Homo sapiens: one gene and its partners. The protein of the gene in region 3 interacts with the protein of the main gene of each other region in a pairwise test. Each region holds a gene or a part of one and is shown on either strand. Other genes may lie near its edges. The genes, in order: GOLM1, STOM and TMEM98.

The links.
Region 1: the proteins of TMEM98 (region 3) and GOLM1 interact in binary tests that used the Homo sapiens proteins (3 or more experiments, as listed by UniProt).
Region 2: the proteins of TMEM98 (region 3) and STOM interact in binary tests that used the Homo sapiens proteins (3 or more experiments, as listed by UniProt).

The regions. Positions count from the first base shown.
Region 1 is NC_000009.12:86,033,514-86,040,558, reverse strand, and holds part of GOLM1 (Golgi membrane protein 1), read left to right. Parts: intron 1-4,051; coding exon 4,052-4,211; intron 4,212-4,933; coding exon 4,934-5,191; intron 5,192-7,045.
Region 2 is NC_000009.12:121,339,251-121,346,394, reverse strand, and holds part of STOM (stomatin), read left to right. Parts: intron 1-4,986; coding exon 4,987-5,193; 3' UTR 5,194-6,753; coding exon of another isoform or gene 6,754-6,774; 3' UTR 6,775-7,144. UniProt on the Homo sapiens protein: Regulates ion channel activity and transmembrane ion transport. Regulates ASIC2 and ASIC3 channel activity.
Region 3 is NC_000017.11:32,938,112-32,944,918, forward strand, and holds the end of TMEM98 (transmembrane protein 98), read left to right. Parts: intron 1-1,365; coding exon 1,366-1,425; intron 1,426-2,674; coding exon 2,675-2,882; 3' UTR 2,883-6,204; downstream 6,205-6,807. UniProt on the Homo sapiens protein: Functions as a negative regulator of MYRF in oligodendrocyte differentiation and myelination. Interacts with the C-terminal of MYRF inhibiting MYRF self-cleavage and N-fragment nuclear translocation.

The DNA of each region.
Region 1 (7,045 bases), on a different chromosome or scaffold from region 3:
CCTCCAGCCCCGCTTCACAAGCTCAGGGCTTTACGGGAATTATCGTATTTAAAGCTCGCAGCCAGCCTGGGAGAGAGTTGCTGTTTTCCTGACTTGAGGACCCCAGCCCCATGGGAGGGGTTAAGTTCTGTGGCCAGTGTCACACCACCTGGTCAGTGGTAGAGCCCATCAAGACCTCAGGTCTGGCCGACTCCATGTCTCGTGCTGTCATTCCACCTCCTGTGCAGAGCACAGCCCACGAAGCTGCTGCTTGAAGCCTTCTGGGTGATCTTTGAGTAGTTTTTTAAAAATATAGCAGCTTTATTAAGATATAATTTGCATTCCCTATGATTCACCCATAGAAAATTTACAATTCATGGGTTCTGAGTATATTCACAAAGTTATGCAGCCATCACCACAGTCAATTTCAGAACATTTTTATTGGCACAAAAGAAACCGTGTATCCCTTAGTTCTCTCTTCAGTCCCCACAGCCCTAGACAGCCAACTGCTAATGTACTTTGTGTCTCTTGATTTGCCTAATCTGGACAATTTCCTGTCAATAGAATCATATATGTGTGGCCTTTTGTGTCTGACTTTTTTTTTTTTTTTTTGAGAGGGCATCTCGCTCTCTCACCCAGGCCAGAGTGCAGTGGCGCGATCTCAGCTCACTGCAGCCTCTGCCTCCCAGGTTCAAGCGATTCTCCTGCCTCAGCCTCCCGAGTAGCTGGGATTACAGGCACCCACCACCACACCTGGCTAATTTTTGTATTTTTAGTAGAGACGGGGTTTCATCATGTTGGCCAGGCTGGTCTTGAACGGCTGACCTCAAGTGATCCACCCACCTCGGCCTCCCAAAGTGCTGGGATTACAGGCGTGAGCCACCACGCCCGGACTGTCTGGTATCTTTGACTGAGTATGAATACCTCAGGGCTCATCGGGGTTGCAGCATGTGTCTGTACTGCATTCCCTTTAATGGCTGATTAATCCATCCTGTGGATAGACCACATGTGGATTATTCATCATCAGTTGATGGGCATTTGGAGTGTTTCCATGTTTTGGCTATTATGAATAATGCCGTATGAACATGAAGCTTTTGTGTGGTCATATGTTTTCATTTCTCTTGGTTAATACCTAGGAGTGGAACTGCTGGGTTATATGGTAATCTATATTTAACCTATTGAGGAACTCCCAGACTTCTTCCAAAGTGGCCATACCATTTTCGACTGCCACCAGTAGTTTATGAGGGCTCCAGTTTCTTCACATCCTTGCCAACTCTTGATACTACCTTTTTCATGATACCCTTCCTAGCAGGTGTGGAGTGGCAGCTCGTTGTTTGGGTTTGCATTTCCCTAATAACTGTGATATCCCTGATGATATTCAGCATCTTTTCACATGTTTCATTGGCCATTTGTATATCTTCTTTGAAGAAATGTCTATTTGGGTCCTTTGCTCATTTTTTAATTGAGTTATTTTTATTATTGAATTGTAAGAGTTTTTAAAATCTATTTTATTAAAGATATATGATAATGGATATATGATTTGCAAGTTTTTTTTCCCAATTCTGTGGGGTTTTTCACTTTCTTGCTGGTGTTTAGTTGAAGCACAGAAGTTCTTAATTTTGACAAAATCCCCATTTTATTTATTTTTTCTTTTGTTGTGTGTTCTTGGTATTATATCTAGTAACACTTTGCCTGACCCAAGATCTTGAAGATTTACTGTTACATTTTCTTCTCAGAGTTTTATCGTTCTTAGTTCTTACGTTTAAGCCTGTGATTCATTTTCAGTTAATTTAATTATTGCATATGGTGTGAGGTAGAGCTCCCACTTCATTCTTGTGTGTGTGCGGTTATCAAGTTGTCTCAGTAATCACTTGTTGAAAGAAAGACTGCTTTTCCCCCACTGAATTGTCTTGGCACCTTTGTCAGAAATCAGTGTGCTGTAAGTATGAGGGTTTTTAGTGAGCCTGAGTGTTTTAGTGAGCCTGAGTCCCTTGGCTGTGAATGTCCCCTATGCTTCTCTTCAGTACCCACTCCCTACCCCAGTGGGACAAAGTGGCTGGAATGGGCTGGAGTTGAGTAGCTTCCTTCTCCCACGTGGAAGTCTAGAGCTTACTGGAGTTGGGTGTTTCATTCCCCCAGGTCAGTTAGGCTCAGATAATATGCCCGCAGGAGCTCTGGGTAATGCGCTCCTCGTGAGGGCCGGCCTGGTTAAGGAGAATAGAGCACTCTGGCCTGTTTCAGAATGGTTCCTTTCCCCGCCACACTGCTGGAAGCACAAGCCGATTTTTCTCTGATGTTCACTGAGAGCCTTTCTCTAATATTCACTGAGAGCCTGGTTGAGCTCCTAGGGGTAAAACTCATAAGTATGGGAGTCCCTTATGACTGGGGCAGGTTTTTTCTTTTTCTTTTTTTTTTTTTTCTTTTGGTGTTGGAGTTTTGCTTTTATCGCCCAGGCTGGAGTGCAATGGCGCAATCTTGGCTCACCACAACCTCTGCCTCCCGGGTTGAAGCAATTCTCCTGCCTCAGCCTCCCGAGTAGCTGGGATTACAGGCATGCGCTACCACACCTGGCTAATTTTGTATTTTTTAGTATATCGGGGTTTCTCCATGTTGGTCAAGCTGGTCTTGAACTCCCGACCTCAGGTGATCAGCCCGTCTCAGCCTCCCAAAGTACTGGCATTACAGGCATTAGCCACCACGCCTGGCTGGGGCAGGTTTTTAACTCTCAGACTCATCCACACTGAGCCTCAAACAGTTCATAAATGACAGGGTCAGGCTCTCCCACCCTGACACCAGTTCCCGTGGTGATGTCTGCCCAAGCCTGTCCTGGTGAGCCGGGACTCTCTGTATTGGGCTGTCTGTCTCCAGGCTTAAGGACAGTGATTTACACTCTGTCCTCACCTCTCCTATGGATCCAAGAAGAGCTGATAACTTTTCAGTCTGTTTAGTTTTTTACTTGTTAGGACTAAGTGGTGACTTTTAAGCTTCTCACGTGAGGAACAGAAAACTGGAAGTCTTCTAATACAGATGCTTGAAGGTGTACATTTCTTCTAAGCACTGCTGGAGCTGCTTCCCATAAGTTTTGGTATGCTGTGTTTTTGTTTTGTGGCAAAGCATTTTCTTTTTTTTTTTTTTTTTTTTGAGAGACAGTCTCGCTCTGTCGCCCCAGGCTGGAATGCAATGGCATGATCTTGGCTCACTGCAACCTCCACCTCCCAGGTTCAAGCGATTTTCCTGCCTCAGCTGGAAATCACCTCCTTGCCTCACCTCCCAAGTAGCTGGAATCACAGGTGCCTGCCACCACACCTGGCTAATTTTTGTATTTTTAGTAGAGATGGGGTTTCACCATGTTGGCAAGGCTGGTCTCAAACTTCTGACCTCTGGTGATCTGCCTGCCTCGGCCTCCCAAAGTGCTGGGATTACAGGTGTGCGCCACCGCGCCTGGCTGTCCAAGCATTTTCTAATTTGTGTTGTGGTTTATTGTTGGACTCACTGGTTATTTAGGAGTGTGTTGTTTAATTTCCAAATATTTGCAAATGTCATAAGTTTCATCCTGTTATTGATTTATAATCCATTCCATTTCTATTAATTTACTTTGTGTGATTTTAGTTAAATATTTAAGTGTATGGAGGCTTGCTTTGTGGCCTGCCATTTGTCCATCCTGGAAAATATTGTGTGTGTGCCTGAGAAGCAGGTGTGTTTGCCCTTGCTAGGCTGAGGGTTCTGCAGATGTTTGTTTCGTCAAGGAGTATTGTGTCGTTCATGTCTTTTTTGTTGTTGATCTTCCGCCTAGGTATTTTATTATTCCGTAAATGCTTCCTCTCAGCAGAATCACTGCCCAGTTTTATTCTGTATTGACAGTACTTTCTGGGAGACCTTGACTCAACCTCTTGTCTTCTGATTTACGCCACATGACCAGGGCGTGACCAGAGTAGACTGTGGCGTTTCTCGGGGTCTTGGTTGGAAGGATATGGTGGTGGGATTGGTGGGATTCATTGCATTGGTAGGATTCTTTTACGGCTTCTGTTCACAGAGCCCTGCCCTGGCTGGCTGTCCTGTGCTTCTGTTTCAGCTCCAAGCCCTCAGTGAGCCTCAGCCCAGGCTGCAGGCAGCAGGCCTGCCACACACAGAGGTGCCACAAGGGAAGGGAAACGTGCTTGGTAACAGCAAGTCCCAGACACCAGCCCCCAGTTCCGAAGTGGTTTTGGATTCAAAGAGACAAGTTGAGAAAGGTAAGCAGAGCCCAGCAGTTGCCCTGTTCCCAGCTCTCCAGAGCCCCATCAGAGGAAGCAGTCCCAGCGAGCTGCTGAGGCAGTCAGTGAACCCGGCAGCGGCGCAGCCAGGAGCAGGGACGTGTCTCTCTGGGCCCCTGGAATTGGGGCTTTGGGGCTTCTCTGACAGATGTCTCCTCCTTGTAAACGAAGTGCCTTGTTCCTGGGCAGCTGTGTAGAGAAAGGCCCAGGCTGCACCTTTATGCAGGACATTGGTGGGCTTGTGGGACTCGGGGGAGGCGGCTGAGCCCCAGACACTGGGAACCAGGAGGCTGCTGTGTCTGTGAGCAAGCCCTGGGTGGGCCTGCCTGCCCTGGCTCCCAAGTGCTTGCTCCAGCGGACCCGATGATCAGGTCACTCAGCAGGATACCCTTTTCCCTTTGTACCTTGTCAAGGTAATTTAGTCCAGGTGTTTTTTTTTTTTTGTTTTGTTTTTTTTTTTGGTAAGCTACTTTTCCCTTTGTCGCGGTTCTGACGATGAGCTGCAGGCACAGAAAGGCCTGCAGTCTGTGGCTGAGGTCACAAAAGGAGCTACCTGGTTGTTCTCCTGTGTGCAGCCCACCCCACCCCCACTCCTTGGGAAGGCTCTGGGAATTGAGTGGCACCAGGTTTTGCTTTTTTTTTTTTTTTTTTTTTTAAATCAAATGCTGGCAAGGTCACAGCTAACTGTGTTCTGTGCACAGAGGAAACCAATGAGATCCAGGTGGTGAATGAGGAGCCTCAGAGGGACAGGCTGCCGCAGGAGCCAGGCCGGGAGCAGGTGGTGGAAGACAGACCTGTAGGTGGAAGAGGCTTCGGGGGAGCCGGAGAACTGGGCCAGACCCCACAGGTGCAGGCTGCCCTGTCAGTGAGCCAGGAAAATCCAGAGATGGAGGGCCCTGAGCGAGACCAGCTTGTCATCCCCGACGGACAGGAGGAGGAGCAGGAAGCTGCCGGGGAAGGTGGGTGTGAAGTTTCGGGGGCCGCTGTGGACTCCCTTCCACCAGACACCCAGCCCACCTCCATGTCCTTCCCAGCACCAACATATCACCCTGAATTTTACCAAACAGCAGTCCACAATTTGCCAATTCCTTTTCGTTTGAAGGTTTCTTATTCGTTATCAAGAGGGAGGCAGGAAGGAAGAGCAGCATATGCTCTAGAACTCGAGGTTTTAGATGCAATATTGGCAGGGAGTCGAGGGGACCTTGCAAGTGGATGGCCTGCAGATGGGTGCTTAGCATCAAGTGGACGCCCCCTCCTGGCAGGCAGGCCACATGCCCCATTTTTGTATGTCCACCGTCGTGCAGTGTCTGGTGCCATTTAGACAATCAGTGCCTAGTGAATGAATGAAGGAAGGAAGGAAGGAATATTGGGTAGATGAAGGTTAATGCATATGTGAACATTGAGAAAAAATGACATGTGAATCACTCCTTTTTGGTTTGGTTGACTCTTTTCTTTTTAAAGAAATAAAGGGTAGGAATTGGAGATCAACCGACTATTCCAGGATGTATTTCAGTCCCTTCAGATATGGAAAATGTCCTTCCCACCTGAGCCAGGAACACTTCTGAGGACATGACACCTGCGCTCTGGGGTGGACCAAGTCACAGAAGTTGGAGAATACACTTATTTGCAGAAGTTACCTTGATTCCATTTAAATCTAATTTTCACTTCAGTGTCTTACTGAAGAACGTGTCCTTCCAAGTTCCAGTTAAAGAATTGGATTTTGTCAGCCTCCCCCTAAGTATCCCTGCTCTGTCCTTGTGTTCCGTGCTCACCCAGCAAGAAGATGCTTGTGGTGTGTGAGGCGGGGAGATCTCACTGGCTCGCTCAGCCTGTGGCGCTCCAGTGTCAGACCCCTCAGCGGCTGGTCACAAAGCGTAACAAAGGTGGGCCTGAGATGCCACAGTGCCTGCAGGATGCACCTGCTTCTAGATGCAGGTGTGGTGACCTCATTTGAAGAAACGCGGTGGACACATAGGCCTGTGCAGTTTCCACCCCAGGCAGTGAGCCAGAGAAAGAGACTAGAGCTGCTTTTCCAGGTGTGCACTTTTAAAAAAGATTTTGTTTGGCCGGGCGCAGTGGCTCATGCCTGTAATCCCAGCACTTTGAGAGGCCGAGGTGGGCGGATCATGAGGTCAGGAGTTCAAGACCATCCTGGCCAATATGGTGAAACCCCATCTCTTCTAAAAATACAAAAATTAGCTGGGCATGGCAGCACGTGCCTGTAATCCCAGCCACTCGGGAGGCTGAGGCAGGAGAATCGCTTGAACCCCGGAGGCGGAGGTTGCAGTGAGCCGAGATTACGCCACCGCACTCCAGCCTGGGCGACAGAGTGAGACTCCATCTCAAAAAAAAAAAAAAAAAGATTTTGTTTACCAGCCTGCATACACATATAAAATATGTAAGTTAAACCCTTTGAGTAGGTCTCTTGAAAGCCTTTTGTCCTCATCTTCTCTGGCTGCTGCCCACTCCAGGGAAGAATAGAGTAATGGGTGCTCTCATGCTCTAAGTATGAGGGACACCTTCTCACGTGTCTCACAGTGGCAGCTCCATTTCCTCTCTCCATTCTAAGGAGATGCTGTCATTAGCTGTAGATATCCGTTCCTTCCTAAAACAGTGGCACCTTTCTTTTATCTTGAGTTGATTATCTCTTTAAAAAATTGAGATTTGGGTTGTTAGTTTCTCCATGTTCTGCCTAGAATGCACCCTTGTATTTAGGGCCATGCTGTCTGTAGATTCCGAGTCCAAGTGGAGTACACATAATGCATGTGCTTGTCCTGGAAGCCAGCCCTTGCGTCCCTACCATTTCCAGAGAG
Region 2 (7,144 bases), on a different chromosome or scaffold from region 3:
AGCACTGTTTTCCTCTGAGCTTAGACTTGGCCTCAGAACCCTTCTATAGCACTCTGGGTAACAACCCTCAACTGCTTAGAGTTAGCTCTAAAAAACAAAACTTGAGGCCAAGCACAGTGGCTCACGTCTGTAATCCCAGCACTTTGGGAGGCTGAGGTGGGTGGATCACCTGAGGTGAGGAGTTCAAGACCAGCCTGGCCACCATGGTGAAACCCCGTCCTTACTAAAAATACAAAGAGTAGCCTGGTGTGGTGGTAGGCGCCTGTAATCCCAGCTACTGGGGAGGCTGAGAAGGAGAATTGCTTGAACCCTGGAGGTGGAGGTTGCAGTGAGCTGAGATTGCGCCACTGCACTTCAGCCCAGGCGACAGAGCAAGACTTCTTCTCAAAAAAATTAAATTAAATAAAAAATTAATAATAATAAAAACTTAAAAAAAAATGAAACTTGTTTGCCATCCCACTATTCAAAGGAAAAATTGAAGCTCTGAAAAGTTAAGTGACGTCCGCAAGGTCGCACAGTTGATTAGTAGCAGTGGAAATTAGAATTCCCCTCTGCTCCTCATTGCCTCCTCTAGTACTGACTTCCCAGGATGGGCTATGAGCCTCTTCCATAGCATTCTTAAGAGTTTGGAAAGAAAATTTCTATCTTCCCTTTATAACAGTAAGAAAAGATAGAAGAAACCGCTTAGAATTCTGAATTGCCATGCTCCCACTTGGACGGGGCTGTAGGGTTAGTCTAGAAGCAGTCTCATGAACCTGGGCAGTGACTGTCTTGGAGTTCACACATAGAATCACAATGAGCCTAGCCCTTCTGTAAAATACAGTAACCCTGCAACAACCATAGGCTTATTGTATTGAAATTCTCATGGAAAATAGGGGGGTCACAGTTTCTTCAACAAATAAATTGCACAGGAAAGGTGAGATAGAGTGGAATAATCTAAAGATTAAGAGACTTTATAGAAAAATTCCTTAGGCTAATTAGCCATCGGGGAAATGCAAATTCACATTATAAGCGGATGTCACACTAGACAGCTATCAGAATGGCCTGAAAAGAACGGAAAAGAACCAAGTGTGGGTGAGAGAGGAACTAGAACTCTCATATTCTGCTGGTGGCAGTGTAACTTAATACAACCACTGTGGAAAACAGTCTGGCAATGTCTATTCATACTGAACATTTGTATACCCTATGAGCCAGCAGCTCCAACTCCTAAGTATGAATCTAACAGAAATGCACTCATATGTTTACCAAAAGGCATGTACTAGAATGTTCACAGCAGCACATTGACCCAAACTGTAGAATACCCAAATGTCCATTCCTAGCTGAATGAATGAAGTCTGGTTTATTCACATGTAGGCATACTACATAGCAAAGAGAATGAATGTAAGTGCTCACACACATAATTTGAGTGAAAGAAGCCGGTCACAGAAGAGGACAGATTCTCCTACGTGTTTCTCTGTATGTTAGGTTTGGTTTTTAAAGTGTTTAGACCAGCTCTTAGTGGCCTGAAATGTAATATCTTTTGTGTTTGCATCAGCTTTTATTTCCTTTTCATAACTCTCAGAAAAACACCTGGCACATGCTTTTGGGCTCATGTTTCTGGGTGTAGAAGTCTATTAATTGAGAGGATGGAGTGCAGAAATACAGATCACCTTTCTCTGCCTTTTCCTCTGCCCAGACCACCTGGTCTGCAGAAGGGACAGGTAGCACCAATTTCACATACATGAAAATGCCAGACTTTAAAATGATGTTCTATAAATATGAAATGTTGATTGCTATGAGATTACTGCACATTCGACAAAAGCCGTGCACACCCACAAATAGCTTGCTTTGCTCTCTAAGATCCTATCAACGGAGTGTACTTGGCCTGTATTTAGACAAAGCCGGTGGTGTTGTTTACATCTTTGGCAGCTTGCTCAGTGTGGCTTTTCTATGAACAAAATGTGTGCCCAGCCCGGTGGGTCTGGCTTCTCAGCCAAGCGATTGTGTATTGATTGGTGGTGGGAAATGAGATATCTTTTCAGTTGGTCCATGTCCAAAGAAAAAAGTGCCTAATTGGACATCTGAGATGATATGGAAAAAATGAGAGCCTGCTGCTCTCATAGCAGGGGATTTCTGATGTATTCTCTGTAGTGCCTACCTTGGAATACAGTTCTGTGGTTTTCTTTGAGCAAAGCTGGCACTTGTCCCTTCTCACAGACCTAGGCAGGACATGATGTGTGGCTTTGATAAATTAAGGTTTTTATCCTATAAGCTGGATCCTTTCTCTCAGTGAGTACTATATTCTGTATCCTATCTCCATTAATGGCACTAATCTATGCAACCAAAACCTGGAAACCTGGGTCTCAGCCTGTGTCCCCCTTTCCTCCTCCTACCTAGTCTCCAAATTCCACTGATTCGCCCTCCTTCGGGGAGGGAGAATAGCTCCCCAAACCATTTCATTCTCTGTCCCCACCACCTATGAATCGCACCGGCCACTCTAAAGCAGTTCCACTAGCAGCTTTCACTGCCTTCTCTTCTAACCTCAGACATCTGTCAGAGAGCTTTTTCAAACTAGATCTGATGGAGTTTACTTACCTGCTTAAAATCATTCTGCAGCTTCCCATTGCCTACAGAATGAAGACCAAACACCCTGGCCCTCACTGCCCTTCAGAACCCGGCCCCATTCATCCCCCACCTTTCCCCTCTTCCTGCCATAGTATTCAGCCATTGACAGTTTTCTGGAATATACCATTTTTATACCTCAGTACCGTTTCATGTGTTCTGCCCAAAATATTCTTCCTCATCTTTTTCTAAACAGCAAACATTTTATCATTTAATATTCAACTTCTATAACCTCACCACGTCACCCTCTGGAAAAGTTGCTTTCTTCTGTTTGCTTGCACTGTGCCTTGTACATATGTCTGTCAGCATTTATCACACTAGAATGAAATGATCTACTTCCATGTCTGCCTTCCCTACCTGACCAGGAGCTGAAGAAGGCTAGGGATTCCACTCTATCCTTAGCTTTTCCTACACAGGGCTTATTAACCCTAGAAGGCCCCCAAATTTTGCTGTGTGAGTGAATGAAATCTCACTGGGCATAAGACCATCACCTCCAATTCTGATATTCATGGAGTATTATGGACCATTAATTATTCAAGATTCAAGTGAGGATAATAACCTGGAGAAATTGTACTTTTAATCTTGATAATTATGGTGTCTTAATACCTTTCCTTCTTCTAGGATTATGAATTAAAGTAACTACCTTGAATCTTTTGTGCATTAAAGCATAGTTGGACCCAAAAATCAGGTCTTGTCACTTGCCATTCCTCTATAATAGCCCCCTTTATTCATTTAACACTTTATATACTTTCTCTGTCTTCCTCACAAGTGGTCCTCTGAAGTACATGTTAGTCTGCTTTAAGAATGGGAAACTGAGGTTCAGGATGTTCAGTAACCTCTCTGAGGACATTCGGCTGGTAAATGTTAGATTTGGGATTTGAACTCAAGTCCATTTGACTCCAGAACTCCTGTTCTGTCTACTACTCGAGTGATCTTCAAACTTTTTTGCCTGTGAAACCCCTTACAGAATTTAGAAAAACTATAAAGTCCATCAAACATTTTAAATCGGCATGTAAAAATTTTTCATCTTGAATTTATGTACTTGCCAAGAATATAATTCCTGGCATGTTGTAAATATTGACATTTTTAAATAAAACTGTTAACATCATTCTTTTAAATGTACCCAATGAGAAATAATAATGATTTAGTTATCCATTAAAAATATGTAAGTAAACTCTTAACAGTCAGGAGCTTTTTATTGTTTTTTTCTTCTTCTTCTTAAACCTAAGTTTTTTATTGCATCTTCACTTCCGCCAGATTCTTTTCCTAACATACATTTTGTCATGAATTATTTTATTAACATACTGCAACATATTTAGTCCATAAGTTAGAATTAATTTTTAAAAATTTCCTGTAACTAAAAACAAGGTTCTACAAACATTTCAGAATTTCTCCTAAATAAGAAGTCAATTTTTTTTTTTTTTTTTGAGACAGATTCTCATTCTGTCAGCCAAGCTGGAGTGCAGCAGTGGCATGATCTCGGCTCACTGCAACCTCCCGGGTTCGAGCAATTCTCCTGTCTCAGCCTCCCAAGTAGCTGGGTTTACAGGTGCTTGCCACAACGCCCAGCTAATTTTTGTACTTTTAGTAGAGATAGGGTTTTGCCATGTTGGCCAGGCTGGTCTCGAACTCCTGACCTCAAGTGATCTGCCCGCCTTGGCCTCCCAAAGTTTTGGGATTACAGGTGTGAGCCACTGCACCCAGTACCAGAAGTCAATTTTTACTAGAAATGCTTGTCTTTATAAGATGAATGAGAATTAAATCGTACATGTATAGATGGCTGTTGTTTAATGCTAGAATGAGACACGATTCAGCATCAATTTTATTCCTATTTTTCATTTTTATAGCTATAAGGACTTTGAAACCTTATTTACATAAATAAGTAGATGGAAATGGAAGTTCTGTTTAAAGTAGTATCATACAGTTCTTAGCACTTTGAATTTATGTGCTAAAAAAATCATATCACAGTCTTTCATCAAAAAATATTTATAATGACCTGTCAGCTTTCAGTTTAGTAAGGTACTCATCAGAGAATTGGAAATGCTGCTGACTTGCAAAAGGATTTGCCTGCAGTCATTAAAGTTACTTGCTTTCTCAATCCTGCACAGTATTTTGAATTATCCCTTTGTTTGTTACCCTGGAAAATGGGAGAAAGGCTATAGTAAAAGAGAATGTCTTGATCCAGGCACTAGTCAGGCAAGTCAGTTTCAGAAAAAGAAGCATATGGAAACTGAGTATGTAGAAATTGATTTTCTTAAAACTACTCTGGCATACGCCCTAGAAAGTTTTGTGGACCACCTGAGGTATACATACCCCCGGTTGAAGAGTGCTGTGTGTCCCCATGAGGTTTTCTCCAGTTCAACCCCTCCTTTCACCTGTCCATAGGTTATTGCAGCCGAAGGAGAAATGAATGCATCCAGGGCTCTGAAAGAAGCCTCCATGGTCATCACTGAATCTCCTGCAGCCCTTCAGCTCCGATACCTGCAGACACTGACCACCATTGCTGCTGAGAAAAACTCAACAATTGTCTTCCCTCTGCCCATAGATATGCTGCAAGGAATCATAGGGGCAAAACACAGCCATCTAGGCTAGTGTAGAGATGAGCGCTAGCCTTCCAAGCATGAAGTCGGGGACCAAATTAGCCTTTAACTCATAAAGAGAGGGTAGGGCTTTTCTTTTTCCATATGTCAATTGTGGTGTTCCCAGAATGTATAGCAGTTATAAAAATAGGTGAAAGAATTGTTAGCTTGTAAATACTGAGAGATTGGTGATTTATATAAGGTAATCTGTTAGTCTTAAAATAGTTAAAAGTTTGTATTTTTAGATTATTATGTAGTAGGTTAGATCCCTCTTGTTTTGACTTCCACTGACTCATTCTGAACCCCCTAAGCACCCAGGCCAGAGGCAAGAACCTGGGCTGTAACTGCCACCTGACACCGCTGACTGGCTAAATGCTTTGCAGAAAGTGATGACCTTACACCACAACCAGCTTCTCCAGGTCATATGTGCCTTACCTCCAGAGAGTCTTTTTTTTTTTTTTTCTGAGATGGAGTTTCACTCTTGTTGCCCAGGCTGGAGTGCAATAGCATGATCTCGGCTCACTGCAACCTCCGCCTCCTGGGTTCAAGAGATTCTCCTGCCTCAGCCTCCCCAGTAGCTGGGATTACAGGCTCATGCCACCATGCCCAGCTAATTTTTGTATTATTATTATTGTTTTTTAGTAGAGACGGGGTTTCACCATGTTGGCCAGGCTAGTCACGAACTCCTAACCTCAGGTGATCCACCCACCTCTGCCTCCCAAAGTGCTGGGATTACAGGCATGAGCTACCACACCTGGTTTGGAGAGTCTTAATTAAGGAAATTTCCCTAATGTTCATTTATTTTCTAAATCCAGACCGTGTTTCAGAATAATCCTTACTTGAGAGTAGCCATTTTCTTGCCTGTACTTGTCAGAACTAGAGGAAATAGCCAAGACTAATGAAAAAGATTACTCTAACCCTTAAAAGACTTTTAAATTCACTACTAGAGTGGTCATTTTAAAAATACATCCATGTTTTAACTTATTTGAGCCTTCTTTATGAGTAAATGATTCCTCCTTGTTCTGTCTTTCAAACCAGCTAAATATTTGTCACAAAAGTGCTTTTTTCTCACTGTTGCCTATTTTCATATATCAGGTTTTAAATAGTTTTAATTTTTTAATAAAATTTTCTCTACGTTCTATATGCAATTGTTATATATCTATTTGAATAGCTGAAGGACTAAAATACTTTTTTAAGAGATAACTTCAGGAAACCATTATATTTTACTATCTGCATGCTGTTAACTGTGGTACACTGTGAAATATGTTGATTACAAACCCATTCATTACATAGTATAAGGAATTCACAGTATATTGACTATATAGTGTCTAATGATCTTGGGCAGATACTGTCAAACTTACAATATCTATATAGATGTAGGTCTTTTTAAATTTACCTAGTCATTCTTCTATCATGTATATTGATGCTGAAAGAGGAACTGGTCAGCTCCTCTGGACAACAAATTCTTAGTCTATAATATTAGGAGACATCTTCTGTTTTGCAAATGTCTGTGAATCTGAGCAACCTGGCATTCTGCTTACTGGCCAGAAAGCTGGCGGGTGACATTTGTAACATTTCCTCTTTGAGACTCTGAGTTCACCTAGAGAAGTCTAAGCATAACAGCTTTCTTTCCCAGCACGAGCCTTTATAGCTCTCTTTAGCTCAACCACTCTGTCCATCCAGCCAATGGATGTCCCTTCCCCTGTACCCCAATTTCAAGCTTATTTTAGGAAGCCTTGAACTACCATGTATCCTGGCTCCTAGCTGAGTTTATTAGAGGTATGGAGCAGTGCAACTTAAACTCAAGTTGCACTTACATTTTGAATTTTAAAATGATGGTTTTATCTGTTGTGTGAAGTGGTTCACCCTTGAGGACCAGGAGCCTCCATATCCTGACTGAAAACCTTTTCTGAGACTTAGAGTAACAGTGCTTTTGGTTCCTTGAGTTCTCCTGTCTCCAGATA
Region 3 (6,807 bases):
GTTCTGGTGCTCACAGGCCCATCCTAAAGAGTACCTTGGACTACTTCTAGAATGCTCCGTGCCATAATTCAGCCAGGGTCCTGCTTTGTCCTTTTGCCCTCACACTTCTTTCTCCTTCTGGCCATGTTTTGTCCCCATTGTTTTTCCTGCTCCATTTATCCCACACAGTGTGTTGATGGCCTGTGAGTCTCGAGGAGGTGGCTTCAGCTCCAGGGCACTAGAGAAAGGAGCTGGCTGAGATAGGCGCGGAGGGTGACTGTGTCTCTGCATGTCCTCACCGGCTCCACAGCCGTGAATAAGAGTGTTTGAGGCCATCTTTTTTTCAAGTGCTTTTAGAAATCAAACAATACATCTTTATTTTTTCTTCCTATCGAGTGTTCATGAGCAAAGATTTGGAGCAAAACCTTGTGCCACGCAAATCAGAATGAATTGTAGTTCTGAACTTGATTTAAAAAAATTAACCACAGGGTAGAAGAAATCCAGTAGAGCAGTGTGAAGCCAAATGAAACTCATGGCCTTCTTTTTCGGTGTCTTACATACCTTTAGCTTTGTATTTTTTTTTCCTGAATACAAGAGTAATTAATGCTTATAAAAATGTGAAATACTGCAGACATACATGACCTGGAAAGTCTACTCCCTCCCAATTGTAGGAAAAAACCACTATTAAGTGGTGAGTGTTCCTCCAGATCCTTCCCAACCCCACATTTCAGAGCTTTTGTTTATCTATTTTTATGCAAATGACAGATTGAGCTTTACATATTATTTGGCAATTTGCCTTTTTAATATAGTAGTAATCTTGAACATCATTCCATATGTATGACTGTATTTTAAAAAACCATTGGAACTGAAACAAAACTAGAAAACAAAGTAGTCTCTGCAAAGACTGAACCTGAAGTCTTTGTGCCTAAGTGTCTGTCTGAGAATGCAGAAGCAATTGGAGAAAGAACCATTAAAGACCAGGTCTGGAATACCAAAAAAGAAGAACTGGAATAAAGATAGAAAGGAAGGAAGGGGCCAGGCGTGTGGCTCACGTGCCTGTAATCCCAGCACTATGGAAGGCTGAGGTGGGTGGATCACCTGAGGTCAGGAGTTCAAGGCTAGCCTGGCCAACATGGTGAAACCCCGTCTCTACTAAAAATACAAAAATTAGCTGGGCATGGTGGCGCGTGCCTGTAATCCCAGCTACTTGGGAAGCTGAGGCAGGAGAATCACTTGAGCCTGGGAGGTGGATGTTGCAGTGAGCTGAGATAGCACCACTGCACTCCAGCCTGGGTGACAGAGCGAGACTCTGTCTCAGGAAAAAAAAAAAAAGGAGAAAAGGAGATCAGGAAAGTGAAGTACTGAACACCTTTTGCCTCCGGTCAGGGTGGATGATGTTGTGAAGTCGATGTACCCTCCGTTGGACCCCAAACTCCTGGACGCACGGTGAGACCAGGGGTGGGTGCATGTTCGGTTTTTCATGCAGAGGTCCACAACCGTTTTATCAGATCTGTGAGGCTGGCTGACTGGCTTGTGTAGGGAGGGTGGCTTTGCAGCCTCCTTAGGCTGCCCGGGCCATGCGTGCCATTTACTTCAGTGAGCGGCGCCTGACTGGGTGATAGAGGCCAGTCCTCTCCTGAAACCCAGGAGAAGAAAGAGGCAGTCTTAGATTTTAAATTGTTATGATTAGACTTCCGGCCATGTTACATCCTAACTGTGCCTTCCCTTCTACCTTTTCCCCTTTCCCCCTCTGATTTTTGTACCCCAGAAGCAGACATGCCTTAGCTGTGAGTGCCACCCAGTTGGGCGGTGGGGCAGTGGTTCCCAGAGCAGTGAGAATGGAGGTGACAGGTCAGCCACAGCTGTGCTCACCTGCCACCAGACATGCGCATACACAGAGTGTACTTAGCCCTATGAAATTGTTATGTTCCTATACCAGATGCAACCCATTTAAGAAATATAGATTCTTTCGTGCCTTGGATTTATATGACTGTGTCATACACATGTAACAGTTGCCAGATCGGCAGTGGGTCACAGCGCTTCAGCTTTGGTTTCTCTGCCCCACTCCTACTGCTGCCGAGCTTTGTCCGTGGGTTAATAATCTGTAATGTATTCTCAAATGCATCATGGTACTAACCATATAAAAGGTATTCTACAGTGAATCTTTCAGCACTGAAAAATCTACTCCTCACTTTGGTTTTCAGTTACATTTTTTTTTTTGAGTTGGATAAACCAGCCCTGGGCCTTACCAATTTGTAATCAATAAGGAATGTTTAAGTGAGGGTGTGTCTGTCCTATGTTTCAGTGGGCAGCGGTTGGGGAATATGCTCATCTGATTGACTATATCTGAACTGTTTCACAAAGCGCTCTTTGGGGAGATGTTAATAGGTGTGCTGCAGAAAATGGCTTCCACAGTCTTAAATAAGCTTGTGAGAGACAGCCTGTTATATTCTCCTTGGAGCTTTACCAGGTACATCTCAGAAGGCTCTGAGGCAGGCTTCAGTTAACCATGTTTAACCCAGCCATCTCCAAATTTATTTGAGCATGGAGCCAACTTTAAATTGCATACCTACCAACATCCTAGGGAAGGGTGTGCAGTTTGGGGAATACTAGTCAAAAAGTCTATCTATTTGGGCTTTTGTGCAAAGTCCCTCATTTCCTAGGAAACCTGACCCTATTTTCTTTTTTTCCCTAGGACGACTGCCCTGCTCCTGTCTGTCAGTCACCTGGTGCTGGTGACAAGGAATGCCTGCCATCTGACGGGAGGCCTGGACTGGATTGACCAGTCTCTGTCGGCTGCTGAGGAGCATTTGGAAGTCCTTCGAGAAGCAGCCCTAGCTTCTGAGCCAGATAAAGGCCTCCCAGGCCCTGAAGGCTTCCTGCAGGAGCAGTCTGCAATTTAGTGCCTACAGGCCAGCAGCTAGCCATGAAGGCCCCTGCCGCCATCCCTGGATGGCTCAGCTTAGCCTTCTACTTTTTCCTATAGAGTTAGTTGTTCTCCACGGCTGGAGAGTTCAGCTGTGTGTGCATAGTAAAGCAGGAGATCCCCGTCAGTTTATGCCTCTTTTGCAGTTGCAAACTGTGGCTGGTGAGTGGCAGTCTAATACTACAGTTAGGGGAGATGCCATTCACTCTCTGCAAGAGGAGTATTGAAAACTGGTGGACTGTCAGCTTTATTTAGCTCACCTAGTGTTTTCAAGAAAATTGAGCCACCGTCTAAGAAATCAAGAGGTTTCACATTAAAATTAGAATTTCTGGCCTCTCTCGATCGGTCAGAATGTGTGGCAATTCTGATCTGCATTTTCAGAAGAGGACAATCAATTGAAACTAAGTAGGGGTTTCTTCTTTTGGCAAGACTTGTACTCTCTCACCTGGCCTGTTTCATTTATTTGTATTATCTGCCTGGTCCCTGAGGCGTCTGGGTCTCTCCTCTCCCTTGCAGGTTTGGGTTTGAAGCTGAGGAACTACAAAGTTGATGATTTCTTTTTTATCTTTATGCCTGCAATTTTACCTAGCTACCACTAGGTGGATAGTAAATTTATACTTATGTTTCCCTCAAGTGTGTAGTTATTGAGTCAAATTCATATGCATGGTGTATTGTGGGACATACTTAGATGGAAGGAGAGAGCCTAAGAATCCTGAGGATGATTTCTGTGTATGCCTCAAAATGAGATATTTAGGCTGGGCGCGGTGGCTCACACCTGTAATCCTCGCACTTTGGGAGGCTAAGGTGGGTGGATTGCTTGAGCCCAGGAGTTTGAGACCAGCCTGGGCAACATGGTGAAACCTCATCTCTACACAAACTACAAAAATTAGCTGGGCATGGTGACACGTGCGGCTGCTTGGTAGGCTGAGGTGGGAGGATCGCTTGAGCCCAGGAGGTGAAGGTTGCAGTGAGCCCTGATTGTGCCACTGCATTCCAGCCTGGGCGACAGAGTGAGACCATGTCTCCAAAACATACATATATATAAAATATATTTAAAGACCTCTTGGAGTTCAGGCAGAAGTGAAGATAGCACTATGAAGTAGTTTCCACATTAACAATAGCAATGACTTGAACGATGTGTTCCCCCTTTCTTCTGATATTAATATCTGTTCATTTTGCAAACATTGAAAGATTATGAAAGCTATGACCCAGAATCACAATTATATAATTTGGATACATACCCAAATGGCATAATTTCTGTCATAAGCCTGTAGGAAAAGCTTGAATTCTTCACTTCTCAGATTCTCAGAGCCAGCTTGCTCTTGGGAGAGGGGCCTGGTATAGGGGCTGCCCAGGTTCGTAGCCTATGCTGTCAAGCATGTTTGGAGTTGCACATCTGTTCCCATGTCATTTTCTCTGTCTAACTGAAGTCAGAAAATTCCTCAGCTGGATTCTGGGGAACCAGGAACCCATATTCCCAAATCCAAGATTGGGACCTGGTTTGTCTTTCCATTTGGGCACATTTCATTCTTTCCAGGAAAACAGGCCACTTCCAACCTGCACAATGTACACCAAACCACAGAACCACAGCTGGGATATGGAGTCAGGAGAGGGAAGCTGGAGCTCAACTCTCATGGACTAAAGGATGGATTCTGGATGGGCTCCAGGGGACACCTTATTGGATTGGTGGCTTCCATCAACTCTTAAAAACGTTAAGTGGTGAACTTTCCCGTCCTGTCAAGCTGTGAATGGGGAATGTATACAAAGTCACTTTGACTTTTCTATTTGAGGCCTCCACAGTAAACATCCAGAGTCATCCTATTTTTGTCTTTTTACCTCCCTTTCAGAACCTGTTTTCGTAATTAGACTGGAAAGCAATTCATGCTAAGTTTGCAATGGCTGCCACAGTTGTAAGTGTCCCCTGCATTTTAACCTGCACTAGAGCCCTAAGCCACAGAGAAGCAGTTCTGAATTGGTATCTCAAATACCATCCACCTGGTGTGGGTCTGCAGGGTGGAGAGCTTTCCCAGCACCCCTGAAGCAATGCCCAATGTCGATTACCTTCTCTGAGTCCTGGCAAGTCCTGGCACATTGGCTTTCTGGATCCCTTAGATGCTGCCCTTTCTGTTGTGAGGAGAGGTTGCCGAAGATATTGGAGGTGTCTGCTGGACTGTAGGATTTCTGATCCCACTGCTGTGTAGTTTTTTTTTCTAGTGCTGGACAAGTAAGAAGCCTCTGGATAAATTTGGTGTTGGTGGCTGATGGTTGAAGTGGAAGCAGTCTTTGGGGTAGGAGGCAATGCCACTCCTCTAGGCCCTTCGGGAGTTGGCTGAAGTTACTTCCTCCCTTGGAAGGGGCTGGTTAGTGAGTGCCAGGGATCTCAGGACTGTCTCTGTGCCAGGTGTGGTTTCCCAGGCAACAGACACATTCCTAAGTGCCTAGTTCTCTAGCGTCTGTATACATGGTAGTAGAGCCTTCCTTCCATGTCTCTCTTCCCTCTGGCCTGGAATAGGAGCATTAGACTCAAATTCTGATGAAAAAGAAATTACTTGGAGATAGAGATTCAATGTGAAGAGAACAAGATATTTGAAGTCAGAATTAGGTTTGAATTTGGGCTCAGTGACTTACAGTGTGAGCTTGGTCAAGTTCTTAACATTCTGGTCCTTAGCATTCTCATCTGTATGGTCAAGGCTATTGTCATTGGGTTGGTATGTCAACAAGCAAAACGGTATGTGTGAGCTGCCCAATTGTGGGCCTGGTTCTGATTAGCCAATGTTAACACCCTTCTCTCCACAGCTTCCCATTCTCTGATGCCGCTGACCCAGATGGCGTCACCTCAGTTACCATGGCTTGGTCCAAGCAGTGACTTCTGTTCATGGGCTCTGGAATTGAGTGGCCAAAAATCTGGAATCCCTACAGTAGGGAGAGTAGCCTTGTCCCTGCCCCACTACAAGTCTGTTCATATGAAGACATACAAAGCCGTCGCCTCTAATCAGTGTTCAAAGGGTCGATTGTGCAACTCACATTCCTCCAGAGAAATTCCCCCAGCTTGTGAGATCTCCAAGAGGGAACACGTATTCCTGGCATCCAACTTCCCCTGGTGCTCCCCCTGACCTGCCTCATTCCAGGAGTTCCCTCTCCAGAGACCCTGTGTGCCCACACGAGCAGACTTTTAGAAAATGGCCTACAGTTCAAAGGCCCTGCATTGCTTTATGGCCTTGGAAATGTGGGGAAAGTGTCAGATGAAGAATTTCTATCCTCCTCACCTCCTCCCTGTCTCCAATAAATGCATACCAAGAGCTTTCTGTGGAAGAGGGTTCGTGCTAGATGCTGGAGCTATGAAACAAAAGGCACAATCCCTGCCCTTAAGGAGCGATAGAGAAATGAGCAACTGCTGGAGCCATGACTGTAGCCAGTGCTGTGATGGAGGGGACCACAAGAGGGACTGTGGGCACACAGAGAAGGGACAGGGCAGGGGTGGGGTTGAAATAGGGCAGAGCTGCTGCCTGAATGGAGACTTGACAAAGAAGGAGTCAGGCATCAGAACAGAAAATGGTCCCAGCTACTCAGGTGGCAGGGGCAGGAGGATCGCTTGAGCCTGGGTTGGGTGGAGGCTGCAGTGAATCTTGATAGAGCCACTGCACTCTAGCTTGGGCAACAGAGCAAGACCCTGTCTCAAAACACACACATGTACACACACACAGAAAGTGCCGGGGGAAATAATATGGTTGTGCTGTGTTTGTTCTGGTGGGTCTTACTGTGTTTCTATGAGAAAGGCTGATGAGCAATTTTCAGAATTTGAGGCAAAACTGGTTCTTCCTGTTTCATCCTATTTGTATTTTTATTATCCCAATTTTGCAGGTAAGGAGACCAAAGCAGAAAGATCAGTAACCCTCCTGGAG